Regions from separate parts of the Homo sapiens genome. Here region 2 is linked to region 1. Evidence: fine-mapped expression QTL. Tissue or cell type: spleen. Region 1 holds a variant in brackets; the other region holds the start of a gene. All regions are shown on one strand. Distances are between the middles of the regions.

The links. PIP is the estimated chance that this variant, and not a neighbour inherited with it, causes the effect.
Region 2: it holds the start of MEG9, and the variant in region 1 is fine-mapped to the expression of MEG9 in spleen (GTEx, PIP 0.92).

What each region holds. Positions count from the first base shown.
Region 1 is chr14:100,681,604-100,689,702 of GRCh38, forward strand. LOC105370668 (a long non-coding RNA gene) reads left to right here and starts at 5,331. Exons shown (of 3, transcript XR_001750887.2): 1 at 5,331-5,754; 2 at 6,036-6,137; 3 at 6,228-6,313. LOC124903385 (a long non-coding RNA gene) reads left to right here and starts at 7,728. Exons shown (of 3, transcript XR_007064339.1): 1 at 7,728-7,813. RefSeq lists an enhancer at 7,335-8,099. The variant G/A (reference allele first, on the strand shown) is at 3,559.
Region 2 is chr14:101,065,774-101,073,872 of GRCh38, forward strand. MEG9 (maternally expressed 9) reads left to right here and starts at 4,138. Exons shown (of 2, transcript NR_047664.1): 1 at 4,138-4,282; 2 at 4,669-7,164. It overlaps MIR410 (microRNA 410), which reads left to right and starts at 139; the gene lies at 139-218. MIR656 (microRNA 656) reads left to right here and starts at 951; the gene lies at 951-1,028. LOC105370670 (a long non-coding RNA gene) reads right to left here. Exons shown (of 5, transcript NR_188195.1): 4 at 7,613-8,099; 5 at 6,205-7,127.

The DNA of each region.
Region 1 (8,099 bases):
GTCTTCAAAGAGGAGGGGGACTCGGGTCCCAAAGCCACAGGAAGAGGTGTTTCAGCAGGAGGGACCAGTCGGCTGCCTGGGGTGGCCACGACAGGAGCCGGGAGGGGTGTCATCGGCCTGGTAACCTGGGTCCTTGGCATCCTTGGGAGTGGGGGTAGAAGCTGGCGGGGGGCAGTGGCACTGGGTGTGAGCAGCTATGAGAAGATGGGGAGGACAGGCTGAGCTGAGGGGAGGGTGGGCGGGGATCTGCCTCCTGCCCCGTAACCCTGATGCTCACAGGGGCACTCCAAGGAGAGAAGGTTCACTCCGTCCCCTGCCAGGGATTGTCTGTGGGGGGCTCCGGGGGCTCTGCAGGACTTTGATGGACTCCTGGGGAGGCAGCTGTGGTTGTGGAGGGGACGCTGCTGCCCCCCGGAGCTGAGTTCATTCCCCATACCCTGCTCATCATGGTGCAAGCTGTCTGGGCCTCGGCTTGCTCATCTGCACTGTGAAAGCGCCAATGGGAACGTGCCGTGTGCTCCGGGTTGTGGAGAGGACTGGACGCCAAAGGTCCCCACAGGCAGGTTTTTCTGTCCCCGAAGTAGGTGGCCAGAGTCTCATAGCTTCTGATGGAGACTTAGCACTCAGTCTGGACGAGCCTTGGGGAGTTGAAGTATGGGCCTGCCCCTTGGCAGACTCAGAGCTGGCCCTTCTGTAAGTGTGCATTCAATCACATGAAAAGTGCCCAGGTCTGAGGAATCATCTGTTACCCAAGTCTCTTGGCAGCTGTCTCTGCTCAACGTGCTGGAGGGGCTGGGAACCACAGAGGGGCTGGCAGGGGCGGGCCAGCCTCCAGTAGGACCACGGCTTTGGTTTTCCATCTGTAAGTGGGGCTGTGGCTACGTGAAAGTGAGCCTGGAGGCCCGCGCCCCCTGAATCCTGATGAAAGGGTCTTCTGCTGCCTGACTATGGGAAGGAGGGGCCATATGGACCTGGAGCATGTTGACGCTGCCAGGGTCTTCCAACTGGACACAGAGGCCAGTCTCTCCCTTTGCAAGGGTCTTCCTTCAGCTGGCCTCAAAGAGAGGCTTCCAGGACCAGAGGGAAGGAACAGGGAGAGCCAGAGCCCACCTCCTCCTAACTCTGCCCACATTGCCCATGGCAGCTCCGTTTCTCCTCTGGAAGCCTCTCCCAAGGGTTGAAGAGAAGCTGGACCCTCCCAACTCCACACACACTCTGAAGATATGCTTCCTATCTGTGCACACATGATCATAGCAGCATCACACACAGTAGCCAGAAGGTGGACACAGCTGAGTGGCCACTGAAGGGTGGATGGAGAAACAAAATGTGGTCAGTCCACACGATGGAATACTATTCAGCCCTGAAAAGGAAGGAAATGCTGGCCCAGGCTACAACATGGGTGAACTTGAGGACATTATGTTGGGTGAAATAAGCCTGTCACAAAAAGTTAAATATGATTCCCTTTATGTGAAGGAGTCAAAATCATAGAGACAGAAAGTAGGATGGAGGCTGCCAGGGCTGGGGGACAGGGAATAGGGAGTTAGTGTTTAATCTTTTGGGGTTTCAGTTTTGCAGGACGAAAGTTGTTCTGGAGACAGACAGTGGTGATGATTGCACACCAGTGGAAATGTACTTAATACCACTGAAATGTACACTTAAAAATGGTGAAGATGGTAAAGATTCTTTTACTACAATTAAAAAATCAAGATTTAGGCTGGGTGCGGTGGTTCACGCCTGTAATCCCAGCACTTTGGGAGGCCGAGGCGGGCGGATCACCTGAGGTCGGGAGTTCGAGACCAGCCTGACCAACATGGTGAAACCCCACCCCTGCTAAAAATACAAAATTAGCCGGGCGTGGTGGTACATGCCTGTAATCCCAGCTACTCAGGAGGCTGAGGCAGAAGAATCGCTTGAACCCGGGAGGTGGAGGTTGCAGTGAGCCAAGATCGTGCCATTGCACTCCAACCTGGGCAACAAGAGTGAAACTCCATCTCAAGAAAAAAATAAAATCAAGATTTGTATTTCATTAAGAGTTCATTAAATCAGTATGGTTCACAATAACCGTCCTTTGCTGTCAAGCTATTACGAAAGATCTCATCAGAAGTCTGCATGTCACTCTTCTTCTCTTCCTTCCTTCCTCACCCTCACGCTTGTTGGTCAGAGCCCTCTCTTAAAGGAAGAAAGCCCAGGGCTCCTGGCCTCCAGCCCAGAGCTCCAGGGAAGGGGCCGGCCATGTCTGAGCTAGGGAAGAGGCTGCAGAAGATAAAGGTTCTGGGGACATGCTCCAAGTTAGAAAGCCAGGTAAGGCTCCCTGACGTCCGCCCAGCAGGACAAAAGCAGACAATTATGGGATGCACCAGAGTCGTGCAGCCCCTTTGGCCCCTGCAATATCAGACGCTTCAGAGACCTGACTGTCTTGCTGTTTGGCTGACGCCGGCCTTAGAAGAACAAGCAGGTCAGAGGATGGAATTAATTTCCTAAAATTGAATGTCATGTTGAAAAGTCATCTCAGGATTTCCTGCCAGAGGGAAGGAGAAATGGCCATTTGGTCTTTGCTCTCTCAATAGCCTGTTGTAGCCTGCCACTTACATCTTTAGTTTTGGGTTGAACCGCATGAAAGTGCCATGTGTTAGGGCAGGAATCATAGAAATAAGCACGTTTATGTAGCATAATTGAATAAAAATAACAGTGAAAAGGTGGTTCCAGAGATGAAGGGAAGAAACAAAACAGACCTCGGCTCTCTGTTTTCTGGGGAAGTACCGGTACTGAGATATCAGATCATTTTGCACGTAATGACACCCCAGTGCTGTGATGAAATTGTCACCAATGCATTAGAGGACTTGAAAATGATATAGCCTCTTTGGAAATGAATAGGCAAGCACGTAGGAAGAGTTATCAAAGGCCAGATGCCCCTTGTTAAGCAGTCCTCCTCCTCCTGGAGATATGCTTCTAAGAAAACCACCTCCAAAGAAGGGAAAAATCATTTTCCTGAAGGTGTTCCACGCGGTGTGAGTTTGACCCTGAAAATCGGAGGTGGCCTCTGCCCTGGGTAACACCAGGACAGCTAAACCCGTAATAGATGCCAGAGACGGGGCAACAGGAACCCCTCCATAGAGAAGGGAAAATCAGACCAGTATGGCGCCGAAGCCCCCTGGTGAAAATGCCACTCATGTTGACCCTGTCCCCAGAAGTTTCCTCTAGGGAATTTTACCTGGTTACTCTCACGGTAGCTAAAATCTGTCAGTTTCATCACTTGGAAGTGGAAGCTTCAGGGGTGAGACCTCTGTGTGTGTGTGTATTTGTGCATGCTTAAAAAACCTCCAACAGGCTGGGCGTGGTGGCTCACACCTGGAATCCCAGAACTTTGGGAGGCCGAGTCAGGATTGCTTGAGCCTGGGAGCTCAAGGTCAGTCTGGGCAACATAGTAAGAGACCATCACTAGCAAAAAAAAAAAAAAAAAAAAAAAAAAATTAGCTGGGCATGGTGGACCTGTAGTCCCAGCTACTCTGGAGGCTGAGGTGGGAGGATCAATTGAGCCCAGGAATTCAAGGTTTCAGT[G/A]AGCTATGATTGCACCACTGCACTCCAGCCTGTGTGGCAGAGAGAGACCCTGTTTGAAAAAAAAACAACAAACAAACTCAAAAACAATAAAACCCTCAAACACAGAGTCAGCTAATGAAACAAGACAGGGGAGCGGGCAGAGATCAAATCCGGCCGTGCCTCAGGCTGCCGCAACAGAACTGGGGGCGGCTGGGTGGGGCGTGGGGTCAGACGGGTGCTTCCCTACTTTTATCAGAATGGGCTTTAATGCTTAAGGCTCTCATCCTTTCTTTAAAGATAGAACAACAACAACAACAAGAAAGCTGGACCCAATCTGTGCTCAGACTTGCGGGGTTGGCTCACATTTCCTTCTCGGCCAGGTGTCCTCTGTTACTTTTTGCGCCCTCCCAGGACCTCGAGGGAACCAAACCCTGCTACCCCTCCACCTCAGCCCCCTCCACCTCAGCCCCCTCCACCGCAGCCCCCTCCACCACAGCCCCCTCCACCACAGCCCCCTCCACCTCAGCCCCCTCCACCTCAGTCCCCTCCACCGCAGCCCCCTCCACCGCAGCCCCCTCCACCTCAGCCCCCTCTCCACCACAGCCCCCTCTCCACCTCAGCCCCCTCCACCTCAGCCCCCTCCACCACAGCCCCCTCCACCTCAGCCCCCTCCACCTCAGCCCCCTCCACCTCAGCCCCCTCCACCTCAGCCTCCTCTCCACCTCAGCCCCCTCCACCGCAGCCCCCTCCACCGCAGCCCCCTCCACCTCAGCCCCCTCTCCACCTCAGCCCCCTCCACCTCAGCCCCCTCCACCTCAGCCCCCTCCACCTCAGCCCCCTCCACCTCAGCCCCCTCCACCTCAGCCTCCTCTCCACCTCAGCCCCCTCCACCGCAGCCCCCTCCACCGCAGCCCCCTCCACCTCAGCCCCCTCTCCACCTCAGCCCCCTCCACCGCAGCCCCCTCCACCTCAGCCCCCTCCACCTCAGCCCCCTCTCCACCTCAGCCCCCTCCACCTCAGCCCCTCCACCGCAGCCCCCTCCACCGCAGCCCCCTCCACCTCAGCCCCTCCACCGCAGCCCCCTCCACCGCAGCCCCCTCCACCTCAGCCCCCTCCACCACAGACCCCTCTCCACCTCAGCCCCCTCCACCTCAGCCCCCTCTCCACCTCAGCCCCCTCCACCTCAGCCCCTCCACCTCAGCCCCCTCCACCTCAGCCCCTCCACCTCAGCCCCCTCCACCTCAGCCCCCTCTCCACCACAGCCCCCTCTCCACCTCAGCCCCCTCCACCTCAGCCCCCTCCACCACAGCCCCCTCCACCTCAGCCCCCTCCACCTCAGCCCCCTCTCCACCTCAGCCCCCTCCACCTCAGCCCCCTCCACCTCAGCCCCTCCACCTCAGCCCCCTCCACCTCAGCCCCTCCACCTCAGCCCCCTCCACCTCAGCCTCCTCCACCTCAGCCCCCTCTCCACCACAGCCCCCTCTCCACCGCAGCCCCCCCTCCACCTCAGCCCCCTCCACCTCAGCCCCCTCCACCTCAGCCCCCTCCACCACAGCCCCCTCTCCACCGCAGCCCCCTCTCCACCGCAGCCCCCTCCACCTCAGCCCCCTCCACCTCAGCCTCCTCTCCACCTCAGCCTCTCCACCTCAGCCCCCTCCACCTCAGCCCCCTCTGCTGCCACAGTCCCTTCAGGGTCCCAGGCAGCTTCACCAGGAGTGGGTTGGGGGCTGGAGAGGCAGGAGGGGGAGGGGAAGAGGGGAATCCTCCCAGCAGGAAAGAGCCACTCAGCTGAAGGGGCCTGGGGGCTGCCCAGGGCTCACTCCCATCTGACCGCGCCCACCATCCCACTCTCTCTCCACCACCCTCCCCAGGGCTACAAACTCCTTGCACAGGGGAGGAGGGAGAGCCTCCAGAGGGAGCCCCTCTTCCTGGTCCCGGGATCCCAGGCCTCTTCCTCTCTCCCTGGTTGCCTAGGAGCGGTCATTGTTCTGAAGCCCCAGAGCAAAGGGGATCTCAAACAAATGCTCCATCCTGGGGCCTTCCTGCTGGATCTGACATTTGGGATGTTTTTAATTCCTGGAGAGACAGATTTGCCACAGGGGAGAAATGACCTCTCTGTGGGCCGCTCCTGGTTAGGCTGCCTAGGACGCAAGGGAGCGAGGCAGGAGAGACCATCTCTGTTTTACGGGGCTCTCCCGGTATCTTCAGAGAGTCCAGGTAAAGGCCTGCCTTGGTGCCAATGGCAGAAACCTTACTGGCCCAGACCAGGCCTGGGATTCCTGTGGTGCCCTCGGCTCGCTGCTAGCATGGTCTCAGAGGACTCATGTTGCCCCCATGATGGGAGCCCATGCAGAGTGGGTGGGTGGAGAGGCCAGGAGGCGGCAGGTGCAGATGCGTGTTTGAGGATTGCGTGCAGGGAGGGCGAGGCGGGGGCCCGTGGTCAGTTAGGATCTGTCCGTTGTCAAATGCAGGGAATGAAGTGGCTCTCTCTCTTTCAGGCCAGCGCCAGGCAGGTGGACAGTGTTTCCAGTGGCCTTCCTGTGGCCTCGACATGGTCAGCTCCCGGGCTGCCTCTGTGGCTAGCTCTGGGACCTTCCCAGGTGCCACATCCCTGGCTCCATGGGACCCTCTCCAGGCCTGGGGCCAGCAGGACCCCTGGAGATGTGCCCCTCTTTCTCTGGTTCACACAGCACCATCGACTTGGCCCCCAGCATGTCCTCAGCCACCGTCATCATCTCTCCATCCCTCAGCCACCGTCATCATCTCTCCATCCCTCAGCCACCGTCATCATCTCTCCACCCCTCAGCCACCGTCATCATCTCTCCATCCCTCAGCCACCGTCATCATCTCTCCATCCCTCAGCCAACGTCATCATCTCTCCATCCCTCAGCCACGATCCCAGTTGAGGTCACATCCTACCCACAGGGGCCCTACTGTGCCCCAGGTCCCTCGGCGACCAAGCTCCGGTCCTCATCTCACGTTCACTCTGAACCAAGGCAAGCTGTCTGGACTTCCACCCTGACCATGCCACTGCCCTGCTCACAGCTGGGGCCTGCCAGCCTCGGGATACAGTCCTTGGTCCCCCATTCCAGCCTCTCCACCAGGCCTGCCTCCCTCCAGTCATGTGGCAGCCGTGCATGTGGCCCCTCACTCCGGCCTTGGCATGCCTGTTCCCTGTGCTGGGATGGCCCCATCGTCCCCACCTCACCCTCTGCTTCCTGGCTACCTCCCTCCTCCTGAAGCTCCGCTTACTCCTCCTCTCCTCCAGGAAGCCCTCCCTCACTACCTCCCTCCCGGAACTTCTCCTCCACTTTGGGGCTAACTCTCCCTTCCTGGCCCCCCACCCCCAGCCCAGTCTAATTGGAGTGTGGCCGGAGCTTCAGTCAGGGCAGTGCAGGTTAGCAAATGGTTGTGGATGAGTGCCTGTGGGCATGTATGGGCTTCCAGTTGCCTCTGCAGGACTTGGGTGGGGGAGGAGGTACAGCCCCCCGGGTGCCCCCGTCCACTCCCCTTACCGTAACACCGACCTTCACCAGCCCTCCACTTCCTGGTGAAAAGCAGACCTGTGGCCTTGGGCGTCTGCAGCAAGGCCTCAGCTTGGGTCGCTTCTCTCCTGTCAGCGTGGGCCAGCGTGGGCTGCTGTGGCCCCGGCTGCTCCAGGTTGGGGGGATTAATTGGCCTGTTGCTGGAGGCAGGCAGAGGCTGGACGGCGGGTAGGCAGAGCAGGCGAGGGGGACCCAAGGCCTGAGCCCCTGTGTTTGCGGGGTGAGGGCAGTGTCCCTGGAGGGAGGGGGTGCTTCTGGCCCTAGGCGAGGGTCCCTGGTGAGCGCCTCTGCAGGGACCCATCCACAGGGCAGCCCACATTAGCATTCTCTGCACAAGAGTTTGCAAAGGAATGACTCACACTCTGGCTGACTAATTTGAAAGTAAGCTGCTTTTGCTGCAAGAAGGTTCAGTGAATCTTAAAAACTGCGTGATGGAGATTTTATTCCTTGTTCTAGACCTTTCCTTCTGCCAGGAAGGTGGCTCTGCCTCGGTTTACGCCTTTGGTTTGCTCACCTGGGGAAGTGGTTGGGGGATTGCGGGAAAACTGAGACTCCCAGGCTTGGCTTGCTTAGTGCTCACAGGTCGCATGCCCTCGGCAAATGACTGAACCTCACCGGACAGCAGGGCGCACCCACGGCACAACACACACATTTGGCGGAATGGGGACCCAAGCCCTGCTGAACCAGGATGAGGACCTCCTCCCACACGGGGTGGTGGGCTTCACAGAGAGGTACATGAGGGGAAGGATTATTTTCCCCTTTTACAGACAGGTAGCCCAACAGTGCAGAGAGGTTAAATCATCCATCTGAGGTCACACAACTGCTAGGTACAGAAGGTGGGATCACCCCACCGGGCTGGTCACTGCCCTCAGCCTTCCCAGCTTAGTTCCCCACCCTGAGTTAGAGCAGAGCCTCAAGCTTGAGGAGATGACTTCTTTTCTTTCTTTCCTTCCTTCCCTTCCCTTCCCCTCCCCTCCCCTCCCCTCCCCTCCCCTTTCATCCCCTCCCTTTCCTTCC
Region 2 (8,099 bases), 380 kb after region 1:
GTGGGCCGGGCAGGGGTCTCTTTCCTGTCTCTGTGTCTTCTCACCTTTGATGTCCCATCCGTCCTCAGGACTGCTTCCCGGGGGCAGCGCTGGCACCACGGGACGCGGCAGCCACGTTCTTGAGCCGATGGCACTCTGGGTACCTGAGAAGAGGTTGTCTGTGATGAGTTCGCTTTTATTAATGACGAATATAACACAGATGGCCTGTTTTCAGTACCGCTACCGCCCGGTGGTGTGCGGGCGCCACGCCTGAGGCGGGACTTTCCAGGGTACGTGAATGCATGGGCTGGTGTGACATTTGTCATCCTTTCCCCTGACCCCCGCCATTGAATCATTTTGGGAGAGCTTTCGGGGGGCCATGTGGACTTTGGGGAAGATGCTAGGGTTGTGCACTGTGGTGGGGGGCGGTCATGAAGCTGATGAGCAATGGTGACGGGGCTCAGTCTGTTTTTCATGGCCAGTGTCATCGAGGCAGAGGACACGGGGGAGCTAGTCCCGCTGGAAGGCATCCTGCTGGAAGGCCACCCACCCCTCGCCAGGATGTTGGGGGCGGCTGCATGCATTCCCTGCACCTGGGCTGCCTTCTGCTCATCTCAGTGCTGTGAGACCCTGGGTGGGAGCTGGTGCCTTGGGTGGCCGTGTGCGTGTGCTGCTCCTTGTGGTGCCTGAGGAGAGGTGGCCTGTGTTGCATTCACAGAAATCATGACACACAAGACACGAGCGGCCTCTCTTCAGTATCAGATCCCACCTGCATGATTCCTGCACCTGCTGATGTCGGGGAGGTCCGGTTGCGCGCCCTGTGGGCCCCCAGAGGCATGGCTGGTGGCCGAGCACGCGCTTGACTTCCACCTGCAGCCCTGTGCTGGCCTCCATCCTGGAGGCGGGTGGGTGGCAGGGCCCTTCCCTGTGGAAGAAGCCTCCTCCCTGGAGTCAGTGCTGCTCAGTGGTACCTGAAATAGGTTGCCTGTGAGGTGTTCACTTTCTATATGATGAATATTATACAGTCAACCTCTTTCCGATATCGAATCCCACCTTGGATGCCTTCCTCTTTGCTGTCAACTCCAGGCAGCAGCTGGCTCTGCGCTGGTTGACCCTGTGGACTTTGTGTAGGACCTGTGTCACTTGGCCTGTTAATTTTCCAGCTCCACTCTGTTCTGGGGGGCTTTGGAAGTGTGACAGAATGGCATCCCCAATTCCAGTGTCAGCGGGAGCACCCGCCATGCCCTTGCTTCCGGTTGGCACATCCCCCAGGCTGGGCTGGCTCTCAGCTACCCGATGCTTATGTCATATTTGCACCCCTGGCCTGCCCAGACTACAGGAAGATGACCAGAGGCCTGTTTGCAGCTGACCTGGAGACTTAGTGACTCCAGAACATGCTGCCCATGCCCAGGGTCCAGGGCTGAAGGCAAGGAGCACCTCAGGAGTGACCCCAAAGAATGAGCTAAGGCTGTCCTTTATCACTCATTGTTGATCAGTGAGCTCCTGGGCTCGGGAGATCTTCCTGAGCTGGGCTCCCGTCATCCCCTAGTTGAGACGTCGCTGCCTTGGAAGTCACAGCCTGTGCCTGCCCTCCCCCTTGTCCTCCTCCTCGGGACCGCTCCTCTCCATGCCTAGCATGGGAGTGGGGATCCCTGGCACCATCCCTCTGGGCTGCCTGCTCCCACTCTCCCTCAGCACCCCTCTTCCCCAGCCCCTGGGCCACAGCCCTGCTGGAGAGGCCGCCCCACAGGCTAGGTCCCTCCAGCCTGTGGCACTTGGGTCTCCCTCCAGTGCCCCTCCCTCTGCCAGGGAGAGCATTTCCAAGTGCAGAGTCCAGCTGTTTAACTCCGCTGCCCAGGGCACCTCTGCAGGCCCCTTCCCTTGGGCTTGGTACCAAAATGATCCGAGGACCCCCCAGGCCCTCAGAGTGGCAGCCCCCCTCTTCTTTTGGAGCCACAGCCTATCCCCCACGTGTTTTCATCCTTCATTCTGGCCTTGCACATGCCCCTCCTTCCGGAGCTGGGTCCTGGGCCGCCCTGCTCTGCCCTCGGCTGCCTCCTGTCCAGGCTCTGGCCCTTCCTTCCTTAAAGGCCCACATCCTTTGCATTTTCCTTTCCCAGGGGTTCACAATTCCCAAGGGGATGGAATGGCTCTTGTTCAGCAAGGTCATCCCTGATAACCCTATAAAAGCAGCTCCCCTTGCCTCTTCCCTATCACATTCTACCAGTTGCCCCGTTACTGTTTTCTTCCTAGCTTACAGTTCTCTGAAATTGCCTAATGTTAATGTCTACCTTCTTTGTGCCCTAGACTGTGAGATTTCTCATTGGCAGAAATTTCTCTCTCTCTCTCTCTCTCTCTCTCTCTCTCTCTCTCTCTCTCATCCCCTGCTGTGTTCAGTAGCAGAACAGTGAGTGTTTGTTGATTGACTAATGGAGTCCCCAAAGGCAGGGACCGGATCAGATGAATTCCCAGGCAGGTGCTGGGCACAAAGCAGGCAGTCAATAAGATGTGGTGATGGAGTACATGAATATGTTAATTGATTTTTAGAAATTCTTCCCATTTGTTCAAAGCTGTTTGGTTTTCTAGCTTTTTCTGCCCTTCCAGGATGAGGCTGAGATTAGCTGCAGGAGGCACGAGTCAGTTGGGTCTGGGTTCTCTCTTCCACTTGTCGGGGGGTGGGGGCACCAAAGCCCCAGAGGAAGTGACAGGCCCTGTGTTCCCCTGCAGATGCCGACTGATCGCGCCCCCGCCCCTCCAGCAAACGCCCCAGCGCTGAGAGCCAAATGCTCTGGGGAACTCCATCTGCAACGGGCTGGAGCGTGGTGTTAGGGCTCATATTTTATGCATGGGGCTGACTAAATGGGAACATTTGGAGATGAAAATTGCTGTTAATGCATCTACACATCTTTGGAATATATTAAATGTGTGTGTGAGGGGAAGAGTGACATTAGCCTTATTTAATAGCTTCAATATAACCATCCCCGCACACCACGGCGTTAACAGGCACGGCCCCCCCGCCGAGTCTCCCAGGCCACCACTCAGGAAGAGTGCTGGGTGCATCACGCGCCACTTGAGAATTAGGGGGTGAGTCCGGCGTCGGCCCGGCATGCAGCAGCGTGCATGTTCCCCGCCGATTTCTAACCCAAACACAGTGACCCTGTGCCACTTGATGCAGAATTTCATTAAAAGCAAAAATGATTGATTTATCTATTGTTTGCGGAGAAGAAAAAATAAACAAAGGGCCTTTCTCATCAGATAAGCCAAATAAGAACGTGTGCCCCACAGGTGGCCAGGATGAAAGTCTCCATGGACCCTTCAACCAGAGGCTCTGTGACTTGTCCCGTCTTCAGTGCGGTGTGTAAACCCTGCCGCCGGTCCAAGTTCACGAGGTGTGCTCCCTTCTCCAGTGCAAGGGCCCGGTTTATCCCCACTATGTCTCCTGGACGTGGTTGGGAAATTGAACAACCTGGACCTCCGTTCCCATTTCCTTGTTGTTTCAGCGGGAGATAAGAGGAGAAGTAATAGCTGTCGTGTTGGGGCGCTTGCCTTGGTCCTGGGCCCCATCAGCTGCTGTGAGGAGACAGTTTCTTTTCCATAGTTGAGGAAATGGAGCGCAGAGAGGTTGAGTGAGTCAACCAAGGTCACCCAGCTGGAGGTGGGGCAGGGTCTGGCTCCAGGCTGTGTGCTCTCACCCACCCTGCTTGCACGGGCTTTAGGAATAGCCCCTGTGTCCTGGAAGACAGATCGCTCACCGAATGGGCCTCTTTTCTTGGTATCATATGATGAGGTAGGCTCACTTTCCCCCAGACTTAGCTTGCCAGAATATTCATGGTTTTTTCTCTGTACTCACCTGTCATCTCTCCAACTTGGTGCCATCACCCATGAAGTGGGATGCTTTGGTGCGTGTCTGGCCTGGGGAGAGGGCTGCTTGCTTTGTCAGAAGACTCAAAGCATGATGGGCATCCAAATACCAAAGACCTATGTTGACCTGTGTTTTTCACTCCGCTTGATGGCAGTTGAGGGCTATATTCACTGCCTCAGTTGCATGGAGTGAACAAGACCTAGTGAAGGTGGTGGGTGCGCTGAGACCATCTGGTTGATCTCTCCTGGGTGGGACCAGGTGCTCCCCTCACCACCCCCACCCTTGTCTGTGTACCACCACTCTGCACAGACACGTTGGCTGGTGCAGTCCTGGAGACCCACGGAGCTCACGGTCGTCAGGGGTCCTCAAGGATTCAGAGAACCCCCAAATGTCAGGGCTGCTCCCTTCTTGTCCTGCCTCTCTGCTCACACCCTTGGACAGGTAAGAAAACTGAGGTCCACAGAGGGCAGGGTGCATTGCTGTGGCTTTTGTTCTGAGCACTGTCTCCCCAGCTTTGGGGTTGAGACTCTGGGGTCAAGACCCACCTCTGATGAACGAGCGGCTTCCTTCTTTGTAAAAATTGAGGCGACCCAGACCAAGAAGGGCTGCAAAATCACCAAGCCAGGACCTCAATACCCAAGGGGCTGGGGTTTCGGCCACCCTGTGGCAGAGCTTTTAGAAGCCAGGGCCCTTGGCTCGGCAGTGCTGGCTCATAGTAGGTGCTTAGTTCATGCCTGTCTCCTTGGATGAAATCTGACCATAGACACCAGTGCAAAGCAGGTGTTCAACACAGGAGGGTGTACTGAACCCGATCTCTCTATCACCAGGAGGAAGCACACGGGAGGCACTCAGAGAACGTTTGTGGAATGAATAAATAAAAGCATATTTTGAGGGAATAAAGAAGCAGAAAAACAAAGAAGAATCTGGGGAAGATGGGCATAAATCTCCACCAAGTGCTGCCAAGGCTTCCCAGGCGAGGCTGCTGAAAAGACCCTGTGGAGGTAGAGGGACAATTTGTCATGGATGGGAATGGGCTTGAGGGCCGGGAAGCAGGGCATGATGGGGCCTCATTCATCATTTTCCCGTTATCCCAGCAGCGTGCAGGGGAGCAGGTACAGCACCTGCCTGTGCAGCTGCACTGCCTGCCCGAAGGCCCTAGGCCCTGGGCCAAGTGAGTGACCAGAGGGGGACTGGGAATGGAAAGGACCTCAAGGAAGGACAAGCTGAGCTCTGGGAGGCCACCTCCTCCAGGAAGCCTTCCCTGATTCATCCTTCACAGGCAGTCTCAATTTGCAGTCAGATATCCACTGCTCTGATTCTTAGATCAGCAAGTATCTCCCTACCCAGACTGCAGGCTCTGCTGGGGCCGCGGCTGTTTCTGACTTGTGCACAATGGCATCCCTGTACCTAGCACAGGACTGAGTCCAGAGAAAGTGCTCAGTGATGCTTGTTGGCCTTGTCTCTCCTCTGTGGGCAGCACAGGGCACCCGGCGGGTCCTGAGGGTGTGGACATCCCACGGCAGAGCCTGCGGTTGATCCCGACCATGAACCAAGGCCTGGGGCGGGGGTGGCCACATCAGGCCACTTCTGCCAGGAGAGATGTGGCTGTGAGCTGGGGGTCTGGCCTGTCCCCGGAGGCATTCCTTGGGTTTGCATCCATCAGAAGATCCACTGGTTGCCTCTATTTGGGCCTGGAGCAGGGATGGGATTTTTCCAAGGTACATGGGGTCTAGGGGAGACCCAGGCCCATTATTAGGGTCGGTCTTGAGAAGGCAGAGATCAGGCCACCACTTTATTTGGTGTAGCTCCTCGCTCCATTGGTGTGTGCTGAGTGAATGAATGCATCAGGGACTCCTGCTTCCTGCCCAGAGCCCCCTCCGCACCCCACACAGCCTTGCTCCAAGGAGAAGGGGTCAGAGCCAACTGGACAGTGCTACAGCATGGGGAGCCTCGACCAGGCTCGGCCCTCGACGATGGGATAGGCAGACAGCCCCCTGTGCAAGGCAGCTAGCTTGCAGGGTCCCGAGAGGCCAAAGGCCCTGGTCTTTCCTGGGGCAAGAGGCTGCTGAGAAGGTGCACAGAGCCTGGGTGCAGGAAACCATCCAGAATGCTGCTTCCCGCCATCTGTGAGATCTTCGTTTTCTCTAACACTCAAAAATAGATGTTTCTGTTATGCTCTCTCGTTGGCAGGGGAGCGGCAGGACCTGCCAAGGCCTGGGGGAGCCCGCCAGCCTGCTGAGTTCTACTGTACAAACAGTTGGGGAGGGGGCGCTGTCTCTGTTAACTTGAAATTCCCCGATCAGTAAACATGCCAATTTAAAGTGTAATTAACTCAGGCCGGAAAAAATTCAGATTTGGACTGCTTTTCACAGTTGAGGTTGTTTTTCTTTTATTTATTTATCTCTTTCCGGGTGTGGTGGTATCTGTGGCTGGTTTTAGCCAGGAAAAATAGAAGGGGGACCGGGTGGGGAGGGGGCTGGTTGGGAGAGGAAAGGCTGGAAGGAAAGGAAGAGAAACGGGCGGGTGGCCTGACACCCAGCAGCCAGGTGTCTATAGGTTTTCTGTCCTGGGAGGGGGCTGTCAGGGTGATGCCCGCCTGCAGAGAGGGGGTCATTCTGCGAGGTTGGGCTGCAGACCCCTGTGCCAGCGGGCCTGGTGATTCGGAAATGATGGGGCACTGTGGAGAGACCCCAGGAAAACACCCAGTGCTGCTTTTGACATTCTCTCTCCATCTCCCCTTTCAGCGGCTGCTCTGCCTGGGATAAACACATTTCAAGAGTCTCAGTCCCCGCTTTGCCACCATCTCCTCCTCTGATCTCCTTTCCTGCTTCAAAAGACTCCAGAATCTTCTCGGTTCTCAGAGAAGGCTGAATCCACCTATGACCTAGTGGGAGCACCCTGTGCCGAAACTGTTTACCTTCTGGTCCCCGGAGCCATGGGTCACGACCTGGGCCTCATGTAGGCCCGCTCCTCAGCAGACCCCAATCTGCGGCTTCTCCCACCTCACTGGGGAAGAAGGAGAGCCCTGGGGATGTGGAGAAGCCACCCCCCACCCCGCCACATCCCCCACATCTTACAGAATCTCGATTGAATCCCCGGGGGCACATCCCTCAGCAGGACAGCAACAGTCTTTGCCGCAGCCTGGGGAGGGCTGTGCTGGGGATGAGCGCCGAGTGGCCGTGGACTAAGTGAAGGAAATGACCATGCTCTTCTCCCAGCTGGATGGCGAGGCCGGGCAGGAACCGCGGAATTCCTGCTCTTCGTTTTCAAACACTTTGCTGTCAAGCTATTTGAATAATAAATACACATTATAAAAATGTAAATATGTTTGTGTGTCTGTATGTTCGGAGATGATGTTTGTTAAGCGGGAGGTTTAACAACGGAGGCCATCTGCCTTCAGCAGGGATTCGCACAGAATGTCACTGGCCTTCGCCCAACAAGCACTTTGCAGGGAGCAACCTCCTGAAGTCGGGGCTCACTCCTGGGTCCCCCTCCACTGCATGCGAGCCCCCCGTTCCAAGGCAGGAGCCAGGGTCACGAAAATGCATGCTTCTTCATCAATCCGAGGTCTCAAACGGCTCCCCCAGCCCCACTGCCTGCCCGTTCCAGGCCTGGGGCTGGCAGCCTGGGCCCCACGAGGGGGCAGAGGCCAGAGCCCGGCGGCAGAGCCCGTGCCCACGCCTCGCTGCTGCCAGCCTCCGCTTGGTCACGACACAGCCAGGCTGACTCAGACACAGCCCCAAGCGGGAGCCTCATAAATGACATCATTACCTATGAAACCTGCCGTGTAGTGCGCTAGCAGGGAAGGACACACTCTGGCCGCCCGGTGACTCACACTGTTTTCCCCAGAGCCTTCCTGCTCCACCGCCTGGGTCTGAGCTGGCTGGGCAGGGGGAGGGGGCACTCAGCTTGGCCTCACTCCCCCGCTCTGCTGCAAATGCAAAAGCAATCGGCCAGGCAGCCACCATCCTGCTGAGGGCTGTGTGTGGGGGTGGCGGGGAGGAGGGGGGGCACCATCTCTCCGGCCTCCCTCTGCAGCCCCAGTGGCGCTCCAGAGGGACTGTCAGTTGCCTATGACAGGGGAGGAAACTGAGGCCTAAAGAGGCCCAATGCCTGGCCTCACAGATCCCACAGGGGAGGGTGGCTTCGGCTCATGCTGGGAACCCCCAGGGAGACCCTTCGGCGAACCCAGCCGCTGGGCAAAGCTGCAAAACCTCTGGCTGTTCCTGCTGGGCCTGAGACTCCAGCTTCTCCTGAG